2 separate regions of the Homo sapiens genome follow, and region 2 is linked to region 1. Evidence: fine-mapped expression QTL. Tissue or cell type: whole blood. Region 1 holds a variant in brackets; the other region holds the start of a gene. All regions are shown on one strand. Distances are from middle to middle.

What was found. PIP is the estimated chance that this variant, and not a neighbour inherited with it, causes the effect. A credible set is the group of variants that fine-mapping cannot tell apart.
Region 2: ASNS starts here. The variant in region 1 is the best candidate, but not a certain one, in a credible set for the expression of ASNS in whole blood (TOPMed, PIP 0.58).

The regions. Positions count from the first base shown.
Region 1 is chr7:97,960,289-97,968,476 of GRCh38, reverse strand. The region is part of intron 1 of CZ1P-ASNS (CZ1P-ASNS readthrough); the gene reads left to right. MIR5692A1 (microRNA 5692a-1) reads right to left here and starts at 4,819; the gene lies at 4,751-4,819. It overlaps MIR5692C2 (microRNA 5692c-2), which reads left to right and starts at 3,996; the gene lies at 3,996-4,072. It also overlaps the pseudogene OR7E38P and the pseudogene CCZ1P-OR7E38P. The variant G/A (reference allele first, on the strand shown) is at 3,559.
Region 2 is chr7:97,869,196-97,877,383 of GRCh38, reverse strand. ASNS (asparagine synthetase (glutamine-hydrolyzing)) reads left to right here and starts at 4,976. Exons shown (of 13, transcript NM_001673.5): 1 at 4,976-5,033; 2 at 7,571-7,606. It overlaps CZ1P-ASNS (CZ1P-ASNS readthrough), which reads left to right. Exons shown (of 19, transcript NR_147989.1): 8 at 7,571-7,606. RefSeq lists silencers at 4,745-4,834, 5,145-5,254 and an enhancer at 4,380-5,095.

The DNA.
Region 1 (8,188 bases):
CTGCAGTGAACTGTGATTGCGCCACTGCACTCTACCCTGGGCAACAGAGCGAGATTCCATCTCAAAAAAAAAAAAGGATAAAAAGTTTGATGATTCCATTCATTGAGAGGAAACTGAAAAATAACAAAAATGTGGGTGATATTCTGTATGTAAATTGAAACTTCAGGATAAGTTGAAATTTTTGAAAGATGCCTAAAGCAATTAGGTGGTTTCATAAATGAGACAACATCACTTAATGGTAGTTTTTGTAACATATTTTTAACTTAAGTTTTCTCATGTAAATAGTCTCTGTATTGAAAAGAACTGGGAGATTTAATAAGCTGAATTAATAATTCCCTAGAGCCTATATCTTGCTTGGCACATAGGAGATAGCCAAAGTCAACATCTATGTGAATTCTTGAATTCACACTTCCTTGGTTCACAAAAATTGGCTGTCATAAGTGTAACTTTGACTTACTTGATTCCTCTTGTTTTTTTGTTTTTTGAGACGGAGTTTTGCTCTTGTTGCCCAGGCTGGAGTGCAGTGGTGTGATCTCGGCTCACTGTAGCCTCTGCGTCCCAGGTTCAAGCCATTCTCCCGCCTCAGCTTCCCGAGTAGCTGGGACTACAGGCGCGCATCACCATACCGGGCGAAGTTTTTGTATTTTCAGTAGAGGCGGGGTTTCGCCATGTTGGCCAGGATGGTCTTGATCTCCTGACCCCGTGATCCGCCCTCCTCAGCCTCCCAAAGTGCTGGGACTACAGGCGTGAGCCACCGCATCTGGCCAAACTTTCTGATGAAAACTCTAAGTCCACCTAAGCTAAGGACAGGAGTTACAGCTTCCATGAATTTTAAAACCAGACCCACCGATTTGAGTAAGCAATTACTCTCTTGAAGGAGAAAAGTCAGAAAACATAATGATGAAATCACTAGGACCTAACTGGCATGTGGAATTATTTTCTGCTTATGAACTATCAACTTTAATTTCATTTCCAGATGACATGGTCTCAGCTGTTCTACAGTGTTTATAAATGTTCTAAATCAAGGGAATTCATCAATCTAGTAGAATAAAATATTTGAGTTCTTAATTTCCTTTAATTAGGATAACCTTTTTCTTCAAGTGAAGAGAATGGTTTTATTACATAGTTTTCTTCGGAAAAGATAGGCTGTATTTTCTAGCAGTTACGAATTTGTTATGTATGATGATCTGGTTCTTGGAACATTCTTGAATCTAGTGTCTCTAAGGCAGGTGTGTACAGCAAGAAGTGAATAACACAGAAATCAATGATGAAAGCATTAGAAGACAATTGAGTCTGTCAGAACTGCAAAATATTGCTGAGTGTGGATTGCTCTGAAATCTGAAAACATTACTTGTGAATTGCTTCTATTCAAAATGCAGACACAATGCCAGGTGTTGGTTTACTTGTTTCCCATTTTTCAACCCTCGTTTCTAGGCAAAGGTGTCCAAATTATGCAGACCCACAGAATCTAACAGATGTCTCTATATTCCTCCTCCTAGAAGTCTCAGGGGATCCAGAACTGCAGCCAGTCCTTGCTGGGCTGTTCCTGTCCATGTGCCTGGTCACGGTGCTGGGGAACCTGCTCATCATCCTGGCCATCAGCCCTGACTCCCACCTCCACACCCCCATGTACTTCTTCCTCTCCAACCTGTCCTTGCCTGACATCGGTTTCACCTCCACCACGGTCCCCAAGATGATTGTGGACATCCAGTCTCACAGCAGAGTCATCTCCTATGCAGGCTGCCTGACTCAGATGTCTCTCTTTGCCATTTTTGGAGGCATGGAAGAGAGACATGCTCCTGAGTGTGATGGCCTATGACTGGTTTGTAGCCATCTGTCACCCGCTATATCATTCACCATCATGAACCCGTGTTTCTGTGCCTTTCTAGTTTTGTTGTCTTTTTTTTTCTCAGTCTTTTAGACTCCCAGCTGCACAACTTGATTGCCTTACAAGTGACCTGCTTCAAGGATGTGGAAATTCCTAATTTCTTCTGTGACCCTTCTCAACTCTCCCATCTTGCATGTTGTGACACCTTCACCATTAACATAATCATGTATTTCCCTGCTGCCATATTTGGTTTTCTTCCCATCTTGGGGACCCTTTTCTCTTTCTCTAAAATTGTTTCCTCCATTCTGAGGGTTTCTTCATCAGGTGGGAAGTATAAAGCCCTCTCCACCTGTGGGTCTCGCCTGTCAGTTGTTTGCTGAGTTTATGGAACAGGCGTTGGAGGGTACCTCAGTTCAGATGTGTCATCTTCCCCCAGAAAGGGTGCAGTGGCCTCAGTGATGTACACACTGGTCACCCCCATGCTGACCCCCTTCATCTACAGCCTGAGAAACAGGGATATGAAAGGTGTCCTGCGGCAGCCGCACGGCAGCACAGTCTAATCTCAATATCTTATCTGTTCCATTCCTTTGTAGTGTGGGTTCAAAAAGGCAGCAAGGTCAAATAATGATAACACAGGGTGAACACCTACTGTGATATTAGGAGTAATACCTCCCTAGGATATAAAGAATACTGTCACACAGTATACACAAAAGGGGTATAACCACTGTGATATTAGAAGCAATATCTCCCTATAATATGATGAAAATTATCACAGGGTATGCCCACTGTGTGATCTTAGGAGTAATCTTTACCCTGGATATTATGATTAACATCAAGGGTGTACACACCCGGGGTACACGCACTGTGATATCAGGAGTTGTATCTCCCTAGGATATTATGAATCATATCACAGGGTATACACTATGTGTGTACATCCACTGATATTTCAAGTCATATCTCTCTATGAGATTACAAATAATATCAAAAGGTGTACACCCCCGTGACCTATTAGGAGTAACGTCCTTCCAGGGTATTACAGATAACGTCACAAGGTGAACACATTTTGTGACATTTTGTACACCCTTTGTGACATTGAAAGAAACATCCCCCTAGGATATTACGAGTAATGACAGGCGGTGTACACACACGGTGTACACCGTCTGTGCCATCAGGAGTAACATTCCCCTAGGATATTATGAATAATACCACAGCAGGTGTACACACATGGTGTACACCCCATGTGACATTAGGAGGAACATGCCCCTAGGATATTAGGAATAGTATCACAGGTGTTGAATATGCATGATATACACCCCTGGTGACATTAAAAGTAACAAGCCCTTAGGATATTATGAATAATATCACAGGGAGTACACCCCATGTGACATTAAAAGTGACATCCCCCGAGGATATGATGAATAATATCAGAGGGTGTACATGCATTGTGACCTTAGTAACGTCTCTAGGATATTATAAATCGTATCACAGGGTGTACACGCATTGTGACATTGGTAGTAACATCCCGCTAGGATATGACGAGTAATGTCACAGGGTGTACACCCCCTGTGACAATAGTAACATTCCCCTAGAATATGACGAATAATATCACAGGAGGTACAGCCCCTGTGATTTACGAGTAACATTTCTATATAATATTACACGTCATAGCACTGTGTGACTCTGTGTACACCCTGTATGACATTAGGAGTAACATCCCACAAAACAATTAC[G/A]AATAATATCACAAGGTGAACACCCTCTGTGACATGAGGAATAACGTAGTTTTAGGATATTATGAATGATATGACAAGGTGTACACACCCTGTAATGTTAGGAGAAATAGCCGTCTAGGATATTAGGAATAATGTCACAGGGAACACACCCCCTGTGACATTAGGATAATACGAATGATATGCCAAGATGTACACGCATTGTGACATTCGTACTAATATCCCTCTGGTATACTATGAATAATATCACAGGGTGTACATCCCTGTGACATTAGGAGTAACATCCCCCTTGAATAGGAGGAATAATATCACAGGGGGTACACACCCTGTGACTTTAGGAGTATCAGCGCCCTGGAATATGAGGAATACTGTCCCAGGGTATTAACCACCTGTGACCTGAGGAGTAACATCCTGTTGGAATATTACGACTCATATCACAGTGTGTACACCAACTGTGATATTAGGAGTCCTATTTATTTTTAGGATATTAGGAATAATATCACAGTAGGTGTACACAAATAGTATGTACGCCCACGGTGATATTAAAAGTTATATCTCCCTAGGGTATTCCGAATAACATCACAGTGGGTGTACACCCACTGTGATATTTGAAGTCATATCTCCCTAAGATGATAAAAAAATCAAAGGGTGGACCCTGTCTGTGACATCAAAAGTAACATCTCTGTGGCTATTCCGAATAGCATCACAGGGTGTACACAGCCTGTGACGTTAGGAGTAGCATCCCCATAAGATATTCCGAGTAATATCACAGGGTGTACACCCCATGTGACATTAAGAGCAACATCTTCTTAGGATATTACGAACAACCTCACAGGGTGTACGCCCCCTGTGACTTTAAAAGTAACATCCCCCTAGAATATTAGGAATAATATCATGGGTGTACACCCCGTGTGACATTAGGAGTAACATCTCCCTAGGATATTACAAAGAACATCACTGGGTGTACGCCCTCTGTCTTATTAGGAGTAACATCCTTCTAGGATATGAAGAATATCACAAGGCGTACACACACTGATATTCGGAGAGATATCTCCCTAGGATATAAGGTGTATCACAGAATGTACACGCATGGTGTACACCCACTGCGACATTAAAAGCAATATCTCCCTATGAGAGTATGAGAAATATCAAAGGGAGAACACTCTCTGTGATATTAGATGTAATGTTTACCATGGATATTACAAATAATATCACAGGGTGTACACACATGAGGTACACCCACTGTGGTATTATTTGTACTGTCTTAGATATAATTCTAATATAACACGGAGAGCTATAACTCTGTAGTATCTGAGATATTACAAATAATATCACAGTCTACACATAGTGTACATAGTGTACACCCACTGTGAGATTTACAGTAAAATCTCCCTATAAGACTACAAATATTATCGAAGTGTGTGCACCCCCGTGACCTTAGGAGTAACATCCTTCTGGATATCAGGAATCATATCATGAGGCATACACACCCTGTGACATTTTGTACACTCTTTGTGACATTCAAAGTCACAGCCCCCTAGTATATTACGAATAATATCAAAGGCGGTTGATGCACACGGTGTACACATCCTGTTACATTAGGCGTAATCTTTTTCTGTGATTTATGAATATCACAGAAGGTGTACACACATGCTGTACACTCCAGGTGACATTAGGAGCAACACCCCCCCAAGATATTAGAAATAATATTACCAGGGTTGCATACACATGGTGTACTCTCCCTGTGACATTAGCAGCAACATTCCCCTAGAATATTACGAATACCATCAGAGGGGGTGTACACACATAATGTACGCACCTTGTAAAATTAGGAGTAGCATCTCCCTACGATGTTATGAATAATATCACAGAAGGTGTACGCACATGGCCTATACCCCACGTGATGTTAGGAGTTACATCTTTCTAGTATGTTAGGAATAATACCACAAAGGTGTTCACACATGGTTAACAGCATATGGAATATTAGGATTAACATCCCTCAAGAATATTACAAATAACATCACAGGGGCTGTGCACACATGGTGCACATGCCCTGTGACATTAGGAGTACATTTCCCTGGCACATTGCAAGTAATATCACAGAGTGTACACCTTCTGTGACATTTGGAGTAACATCCCCTAGGATAGTATGAATAATATCACAGGGTGTACATCCCCTGTGACCTGAGGAGTAACATCCTTCTAGGACATTGTGAATAACATCACAAAATGAATGCACAGCCCCTGTGACACGAGGAGTAACATCCACCTAGGATATTCTGAATAATATCACAGAGAGTACACCCCATGTGACAGTAGGAGAAACCTCCCCCGAGGATATAACGAACAAATACAGAGGATGTACACGCGTCGTGTCACTAGCATTAACATCCATTTAGGATATTACGAATATTATCACAGTGTGAACGCCCCCTGTAATATTAGGAGTAACATCCCCCTACAATATTGGGCACCATATCATACGGTGTACACCCCCTGTGACATTAGAGGTAACATTTCATTAGGTTATGATGAATAATATTACAAGGTGTAAGGCCCCTGCGACATTTGGAGTAACATTTCCATAAAATATTACGAATAATATCACTGTTTGTACACCACGGGTGACATTAGGAGTCCCAGCCTCCAAAATTATTATGAATAACTTCACAGGGCGTACACCCTCTGTGACATTAGGAGTAACATCTTTCTAAAATATGACGAATAAAATCAAAAAGTGTACACCCCATGTGACATTAGAAGCAACATTGCCCGAGGATATAAGAAATAATATCAGATTGTGTACGTGCATTGTGACATCAGTAGTAACATCCCTTTAGGGTATGACGAGTATTATCAGAATGTGAATACCATCTGTAACATTAGGAGTAACATCACCCTACAACATCGGGAATAATACCACAGGGTGTACACCACCTGTGATATTAGTGGTAATATTTCTTTAAGATATTATGAATAATATCACGGGGTGTACAGCCCCTGTGAGATTAGGACTAACATATCCAAAAAAGCTTGACAAATCATATCACGGTTTATACACCAAGTGTGACATTAGGAGTAACATCCCCCAAAACTATTATGAATAACTTCACAGATTGTACACGCTCTGTGATATTAGGGGTTCACATCTTCCTAGAATGTGAAGAATAACATCACAGGAGGAACACCCCCGTGATATGAAGGGTAACATCACTCTAGGATATTACGAATAATATAACAAAGTGTACCCAATTTGTATGGTAGGAGTAACATCCCCTGGGATACTACAAATCATAGCACAGAAAGCGCAGCCCCTGTGACAACAGGAGGAACATCCCCTTAGGATATTATGAATAACATCACAAGGTGTACACACATTGTGACATTAGTAACAATAGCCAGCTAGTAGATGGTGAATAATATCACAGCGTGTACACATTTGCAACATGAGGAGTCACATCCCCCTAGAATATGAAGAAGAATATCACAGGGTGTACACACCCTGCGACTTTACGATAATCATCCCCCTGGATGACTACAAATAATTTCACAGGATGTGAAACCCCTGTGACAATAGGAATAATATACTTCTACGATATGACAAATAATATCACAGTTTGTACACCCACTGTGATATTAAAAGTTATACCTCCCTCAGATATGGTGAATAATATCACAGGGTGTACCCTCTGTGGGATACTAGCAGTCATGTTTACCATGGATATTACAAAGAATATCACAGGTGTAAACACATGGGGTACGCCCACTGTGATATTAGGAGTTATGTCTCTCGAAGATATTAGAAATAATATCCCAGTGGGTGTACCCCATGTGTGTACACCCACTATGATACTTTAAGTAATATCTCTCTATAAGATTACAAATAATATCGAAGGGTGTACAGCTCCCGTGACATTAGGAGTAACATCCCCCTACAATATTGGGAACAATATCACATGGTGTACACCCCTGTAACGTTAGGGGTAACATCCCCCCAGAATATTACTAATAATATCACAAGGTGTACACGCATTGTGACATTAGTAGTAATATCCAGCTAGCATATTTTCAATAATATCACAGAAGGAACACACGTGTGACATTAAGAGTAACATCCCCCGAGAATACTTAGAATAATATCACAGGGTGTACACCCCCTGTGACATTAGGAGTATCATCTCGCTAGAATATTATGAATAATGTCACTGGGTGTTATCTTCTGTGACATTAGGAGTATAGACCCCTGGAAAATTATGAATACTTTCACAGGGTCTACACCCCTGTGACATTAGGAGTAACATCCTTCTAGAATACCACGAATCATATCACAATGTGTACACCCCCTGAGTCATTAAAAGTAAAACTGTCCTAGGACATTACGAAATAGAACACAGGGAGTACACCCCGTGTGACATTAGAAGTAACATCCCCCTAGGATATAATGAAGAATATCAGAGAATGTACCTGCATTGGGACATGAGTAGTAACATCTTAGGATAATACGAAGAATATCAAAGGGTGTACACACATTGTGAAATTACTAGTGAACTCCCGCAAGGATATTACGAATTTTATGACAGGTCCGACTCGCCCTGTGACATTAGTAGTCACCTATTCCTACAATATTATGAAG
Region 2 (8,188 bases), 91 kb after region 1:
TGGTGGCTCATGCCTGTAATCCCAACACTTTGGGAGGCTAAGGTGGGTGGATCACAATATCAGGAGATCGAGACCATCCTGGCCAACATGGTAAAACCCCGTCTCTACTAAAAATACAAAAATTAGCCAGGCGTGGTGGCACGCACCTGTAGTCCCAGCTACTCAGGAGGCTGAGGCAGGGGAATCACTTGAACCCAGGAGGTGGAGGTTGCAGTGACCCGGGACCATGCCACTGCACTCCAACCTGGGCAACAGAGAGAGACTCCATCTCAAAAAAAAAAAAAAAAAGAAGTTAAATGAATACTTTTGACCATTGATGGAAGTTGCTTTCATTCCCTCTTACTTAATCATCTTTATCTTAGCCCTGAAAGAGGGATGCTTTAACCCCATTTGTAACAAGTGAGTCTGAGGCTCAGGAAAGTGATAGAATTTAGCAAAGTCCACCTTGCTACCTGGTGGCCCCAGCTAGAACTCAGCCCCAGGTCCATATACCTAAAGTCATTACAGCGTCCACTAAAATTTTGCCCCTCTCTCGATGCCTTCCTCTTTAGAAGCCTGTTCCTTCAGGGATAGATCCCAACTCAGTGTTACAAGGTACTGAACTCTGATTTTCACAAAATATAGTAACTGCCCCCCAAAATTAATAATAGTATTTTTGAGCTGGGCACGGTGGTTCATGCCTGTAATCCCAGCACTTTGGGAGGCTGAGGTGGGTGGATCATGAGGTCAAGAGATCGAGAGCATCCTGGACAACATGGTGAAACCCCGTCTCTACTAAAAATACAAAAATTAACTGGGAGTGGTAGCAGGCACCTGTAATCCCAGCTACTCAGGAGGCTGAGGCAGGAGAATCGATTGAATCCAGGAGGCAGAGGTTGCAGTGAGCCGAGATTGCACCACTGCACTCCAGCCTGGCAACAGAGCAAGACTCCGTCTCAAAAAAAAAAAAAAAAATATGTTTGAGTCCTTATGTGTCAACCACTGGGCTATCCCAACACCAATAGCTATTATGATTATGATTATTTTTTCCATTTTATTGATGAGGAAACCAACACATAGAAAGGTAAAGGAACTTGCCAAAGGTGACGGTCACACAGCCAAAGAGCTGTAGAAGCAGCACAGGAATACCAGCAAACTCACAGCCAAGCTCTGCTTTTCACCTTCACATCATACAGTCCTCAGACTAAAACCCTAACTCTGACCTTCCAAATCAAAAATCATACTCAAGGCCGGGTGCGGCGGCTCATGCCTATCATCTCAGCACTTTGGGAGGCCGAGGCAGGTGGATCACCTGAGGTCAGGAGTTCCAGACCAACCAGGCCAACATGGTGAAACCCCATCTCTACTAAAAATACAAAACTTAGCCAGGCGTGGTGGTGGGTGTCTGTAATCCCAGCATTTTGGGAGGCTGATGCATGAAAATCACTTGAACCCAGGAGGCAGAAGTTGCAGCGATCCATGATCATGCCACTGCACTCCAGCCTGGGCAAGAGAGTAAGACTCTGTCTCAAAAAAAAAAAAATTGCCTAATAATAGCTTGGAAGTGCACATGTCTTCTGTGAAGGTTGATGGACTACAATTAGCTTCAAAACACAAATAAGTAACTGTGTTTAAATGAGGCCTTCTGTGTAATATCTAGGGAAAATCAATGTGGCTATTCAAATTTGTTTCCCCTTCCAAGCACAGAGAAGTTGCTCATGACTCTGTGATCCGTTTTGTCCAATGAACCATGAGCAGCAGCAGCAACTTGAGTCACCTCCAGGTGGAAGTGTTAAGAGGCTCTATGATCCACCACATTCCGTTTCCCCTGAAGGGTGATCAAGGACACATGCAGAGATGGGGCTTTTGTCAGCCTGGATCCCTGAGTGAACACAATGAACAGACCACCACACAATGCCCTAACACAGCCCAGACATGCAACGTGACCAAGAATAAGCCTCACTGTGGCCAGGCATGGTGGCTCATGCCTGTCATCCCAGAACTTTGGGAGGCCAAGGCGGGTGGATCATTTGAGGTCAGGAGTTCAAGACCAGCCTGGCTAACATGGTGAAATCCTGTCTCTACTAAGTACAAAAATTAGCCAGACAGTGGTGGCATGGGCCTGTAATCCCAGCTACTCAGGAGGCAGGAGAATCACTTGAGTCTGGGAGGCAGAGGTTGCAGTGAGCTGAGATTGCACCACTGCACTCTAGTCTGGGTGACAGAGTGAGACCCTGTCTCAAAAACAAACAAATACCTCACTGCATGGAGCCACTGAGATTTGGGGATTGTCGTTACTGCACCAGAACCCAAATCATCCTGACCGCTAGGGTGTCCTAACTAGGGTTTCTTCCCAAAAGCAAAGGCATTTTTAAAGTTCGTGACATTTAAACAAAAGAGCAAATACCAATATCTACCACTTCGTCAGGCTAACAAACCCAAACAAAGCCAACAGCCAGAAGTTAAAATAAACAGATCATTAGGTTGAAAATAGAACTGTCAAAACAGGCACAATTGACTTCATTTAGTGATTGCAAAGAACATCAGGCAAGACACACGTGTGGTCATCATAACATTTATCACATGCTTAATTGCACATGTTTGACTAAGAAAAACACAAAGTATTTAAGCTCATCTGTAGTTCAAAGTGCCTATCCGTGTATTTATCTATTCATCCTGATGTATTTATTGAGCAACTCTTTTGTGCCAGGCACTGTGCTGTGTTGCGGGAAGTCAGGGACCCCAAACGGAGGGACCAGCTGAAGCCATGACAGAAGAACGTGGATTATGAAGATTTTATGGACATTTATTAGTTCCCCAAATTAATACTTTTGTAATTTCTTATGCCTGCCTTCACTGCAATCTCTAAACATAAATTGTAAAGATTTCATGGACTAAACTTATCACTTCCCTAATCAATACCCTTGTGATTTCCTATGCCTGTCATTACTTTAATCTCTTAATCCTGTCAGCCGAGAAGGATGTATATCGTCTCAGGACCTGTAATAATTGCGTTAAGTACACAAATTATACAGCATGTGTGTTTGAGCAATATGAAATGTGGGCACCCTGAAAAAAGAACAGGATAACAGCAATTGTTCAGGGAATAAGAGAGATAACCTTAAACTCTGACCGCCGGTGAGCCAGGCAGAACAGAACCATATTTCTCTTCTTTCAAAAGCAAATGGGAGAAATATCGCTGAATTCCTTTTCTCAGCATGGAACGTCCCTGAGAAAGAGAATGCGCACCTAGGGGTAGGTCTCTAAACTGGCCCCCCGGGGCGTACCTGTCTCTTATGGTCGAGACTGCAGAGGTGAAATAAACTCCAGTCTCCCATAGCACTCCCAGGCTTATTAGGAAGAGAAAATTCCCACCTAATAAACTTTGGTCAGACCGGTTGATCTCAAAACCCTGTCTCCTGATAAGATGTTATCAATGACAATGGTGCCAAAACTTCATTAGCAATTTTAATTTCACCTTTTGCATCTCCTTGAAATGTCTGCCTTTGCACACTCTCCCTGAAAGAGGAGGGCAAGGGAGCCAGGATAGAAAGTGAGGTGGAGAAGTGTAGAGCTCTGGACGGACAAGCAGGAGATACGCAGCACAAGGAAGCACACTAGGTAACACACCAAGCAGGGGAACCTGTCTTTCACTACATAGGCAAGATGCTACGGGAAATGGGCTCTGGGTTTACACAGATTATGACTCAGTTCTCTACTGTTGTGAAGCTGTGTTTGGATAAATCCCTCAACTTTTCTGAGTCTTATTTTTTCATTTGTAAAATGTAGATAGAAGACCTACTTTCCCACATTGCTCTCAGGTTTAAAGTACGTCAATTAGGATACAGCAAAGTCTGTTTGATACTGAAAACTTTCCAGCAACAATGAACCTTAGAACAAGTCATCTCTCATCTTTGCTCTTGCCTGTAACTACTAAGCGACTACTCCATCTTCTGTTCTTAGGGATTTTAAATTGTTGACGTTTTTGATTTAGTCAGGAATGCGTTGTATGGGGATATCAAACCTGCATGCTCTCCAAGCATTGACTGTAGTCTGATCTTAGTAGGTCGTGCACATATAATTTTACTATTTCTCAATTTATTTCGGTGCTGATGTAATTAGTAAAATACGATTTAAGAGTGTTATGATACTTTTTAAAAATCGTGATGTCTTTTCTTCATCAAAGAGATACTTAAAAGCACATAATCATCTTGTGGAGGCAAGTTGACAAAATCCTTTTTGAGATTCTAAAAGGAATCTTTGTACTTAAAATGTTTAAGGACCACTGATGTATTTTGGCTTCATGTATCAATTAGATTTAGATTTTATTGTTTTAGAGATGGGGGTCTCCCTTTGTCGCCCAGGCTGGAGTTGAGCTCACCTCAGCCTCAAACGCCTGGGCTCAAACTATCCTTCTGCCTCAGCCTCCTGAGTTGCTGGGACTACCATGGTGTGCCACCAATTTTTATAGAGATGTGATCTCGCTGTGTTTCCCAGGCTGGTCTTGAACTCCTGGTTTCAAGTGATCCTCTTGCCTTGGCTTCCCAAAGTGTTGGGATTACAGGCGTGAGCCACCGCTCCTGGCCCCGATTTATTAATAGATCTTATAAGGACATTTTAGGCCTCACGCATCAGTTTCTTAGGACAAGCTTTTCTCTGCACTGCATAATAAATCAGACGGCAGTGCAACAAAAAAACGGTGATGATTTCCCGAAGAACAAACCAAGTTCAGAAGCCTCCCTAATTGTCAGAACAGCAGGTAGCCTGGGCGGAGCTCTGAGGCTATCCTTAAACAGGCGCACTGAGACGCAAGGCGCTGGAAACAAAAGAGCTCCTCCTTGCGCCCTTCCGCCGCCCCACTTAGTCCTGCTCCGCCCCGGACACCCCGCGGCCCCGCCCCTGTGCGCGCTGGTTGGTCCTCGCAGGCATGATGAAACTTCCCGCACGCGTTACAGGAGCCAGGTCGGTATAAGCGCCAGCGGCCTCGCCGCCCGTCAAGCTGTCCACATCCCTGGCCTCAGCCCGCCACATCACCCTGACCTGCTTACGCCCAGGTGAGCCGGGTCCTGCGCCCCGTGCCCTGCGCCCCGCGCCAGCATCCTCCTCGCGTGCCCTGGGGCTGCTCCGGAAGGAAGGGGTGGAGGATGCGGTCTTCAGCCTGGCACCCGGCAGACGCGGTTCGCGGGCGCCTGCTGATGCTGCGGCTCCTGCGGTAGGGAGGGCGGGGCGGACGCCTAGCGATTGTTACGCACCTGACAGCTAGCGGAAGGACCTTTCTGTCCTGGTTCCCTGAAGCATCGAGAGGGAACCGCGGCCGGCAGGCCGGACCGCTCCGGAGAGGAGGCAGCGGCAGTTTGAGCCCCTGTAAATGTTATATGTGTACTTTTTTTTACTATGTGGCGTCGAAGCCTGTGGACATTTTCGCGGTCCGGGTCCCTGCGGCGGACGGGTCGGATCGTGCTCGTGGCCAGGGCGCAGTCAGGTGTCGCGTGGTCCTGATCTAGGAAGAGACTGCGGCCTTATCACCGTCTCGGTGTCTGCTTTCACCTTCAACTGCCCCCCTCCTCACCTGGACCGCTCACCCTCCTCCTCCCCTCTCACCCCGCCATCCCCACCAGTCCCCACCTGTCTCTGTAGACTGCAAGACTCATCAAGTGACTTGCTGAGCAAACCCTGCCGAGAAGAGGTCTGTTTAGGGACACAGGCGACCAAGTACAGAAAAAGGCAAAAGAACTAGCATGCCTTTTTCAATGGCTGTCATTTTGCAGGGCTGGCTTCAGATGATTGTTATAGCTTTAAATAAAAAGGACAGTTTTCATCTCGGCCCGTGGCCTACATTATTTCTTTACTGTCCATTGCCCTGGGCGCTTGACTAATAATTTAACAGCAGTTTTTTTTTTTAAATTTTAAATCATGATTCATAGCATTGCTGTAAGAGTAATTAGAGGTAAAGTAGGGCTTGAACCTGTCTGTAGTTGGTTACTTACTGAGATCTTAATATAAAAGTAAAGGGAGAGGGTGAAGTTGTAAGTAGCACTAAGTGGAATAGAAATTAAATGCACTGAAACTGCCATGTCCAGTTCGGTAGGCGCTAGCCACCTGTAACTGTTGAGCACTTGAAGTGCTGGCTAGTCCTAACTGAGATGTATTGTGTTAAATACACTGGATTTTGTCGTTGGAGTAGGAAGAACAGTGTAAAATATCTGCTCGATAATATTTTATATTGATTACATATATGTTAAAATGTTACTATTTGGGACATACTGAGTTAAGTTTATTTAAAATTAATTTCACCTTTTTCTTTTAATGGGGCTACTAGTATATTTAAAATTACATATGTGGCTTACATATATATTTATTGGACAGCACTGTTCTAGAAGTTTAGGAAGAAATAAGAAAAATATTGAGAACAGGTAGCGGCAGTAGGAACTTTGCCCTCCTATAAGACTGATTCCAATAAAAATAATAGGTTATAGTTTTAATTGGCTTTTTCCTACTAGAAAAAATAAGTGTACTTTACATGCCTCTTTGTTCTCCCTTTTTCCCCTCCAGTTTAGTGGTTAGAATGTATTTATTATAGCAGGATTAATACAGGGATTCACTAAGCAGCGTTAAGAAGACTTAGGTAACTGATTCCCTGATGACCATACTTGATTTTCAAAGCACTTTCCTAACCCGTTTTAAATTGATATAGAGTCAAAGGCAGATGGCTTATTAGTAGTCATCTCATTTAAATCTTATGGAATTTTTCCAGTAAATCTCAAATAATTTGTTATAGGCTATTTGGGCTATTTGGTCAAGTGCATGGAAGAGACAGCATAGGACATGTGGTACTTCATTTCCAAATTGCTTGAGATGATTTTCATTCTAACCATATATTATTTGGTTCTGGTTTTCCGGAAAAGCCAGCTAAACCTTTGGTTCTTTTAGATATAAATGAAATATCATCAAAGAATAGCTCAAAGTGACTTATGCAACTTGAATGTATATTTTTTCCTTAGGGTGTTTATCCCAAACTATTTGGGCATTTGCTGCAATTCGCAGTTTTTTTAAAAAAAACACCAAAATAGTTATTTTTCAAGTTAGAGATGTTTTAATTAAAACATCTTGTTTTTGGTGTATCCATTGACATTCTCAAAACGGAATGTATCTGGACCTCTGTGTACAATCTTCGTAGCACTCAGACACTGAACAGAAAGGCAGTCATCACTGCCAAACAGGGCCCAAATGCCACACATGGTGCAATGTGTCATTTTGAGCTGGCAGCAGCCAAATAAAACAGCCCTTTATTTCACAGTTGAGAATTTGAAATTGGAAAGTAATTAACGTATGTAAGGGTGATTTATTTGCTTCCGGGCTTATAGGGATGAGCTAAGTTTTTTATTAGGGATGTTGTTGGTGTATATGTCTCACCTACTTTGCTTCCTTACTGAACAATGCAACTTTGAGACAGAAATATTTGAGAACATTTTTGTCAGTGAGGACATTTTGATAGTGAATATTTTGTATCTTCTATTAACTTGAAATGTTTTATTTGTTATAAAGCCAGGATATCTGATATCAAATTAAATTGTTTTTTTTTTCCCTTTAGATTTTCTTCAATCACATCTGAATAAATCACTTGAAGGTAACCTAGATGTAATATAGTGAAATGCTTGAAAGAGCTGCGTATCTTTTACACTTACAGCAGTATGATTTTCTGTTGTACCCATTATATGGTACCTGCAGCTAGTTCAGATAAAGAGGGCATTTAACTGTCAAGGGAACCTGAGAGGAGACTCTAGTAATCTGGAAAGTCTGTTGGATCTTTGAGGGATTTTGGGATGGTGAGAGTGGGGCTAGGATCTCTGGCTAGGTTGGAGCCAGCCTGCATTTGTATCTGTATCTTGGAAGCAAACTTAGAATGCAGAGACAGATGTGGCATGGACGCTGTCAGCTCTAGCCAACCACTAAATCCTAAGGTGGGAGAGATGCAGGCTTTGGCTAGGTGCTAAGCTGCTGTAGCCGGTTGAATGTAGAGGTCACTATCTTTTCCGAATACCTGTAAGTAAATTAAATCATTCTCTACTCCCATGTGCCTGCCAACCTAATGGGAAATCGCTATAGAAAAGATGGTTTAAATTTTAGTCTTTGAAGTGGTTTATGCACGTTTCCGGAATCAAGATTTAATGCAGAGTTGGATTGGATATTGAATATTTTTGATTTGTCT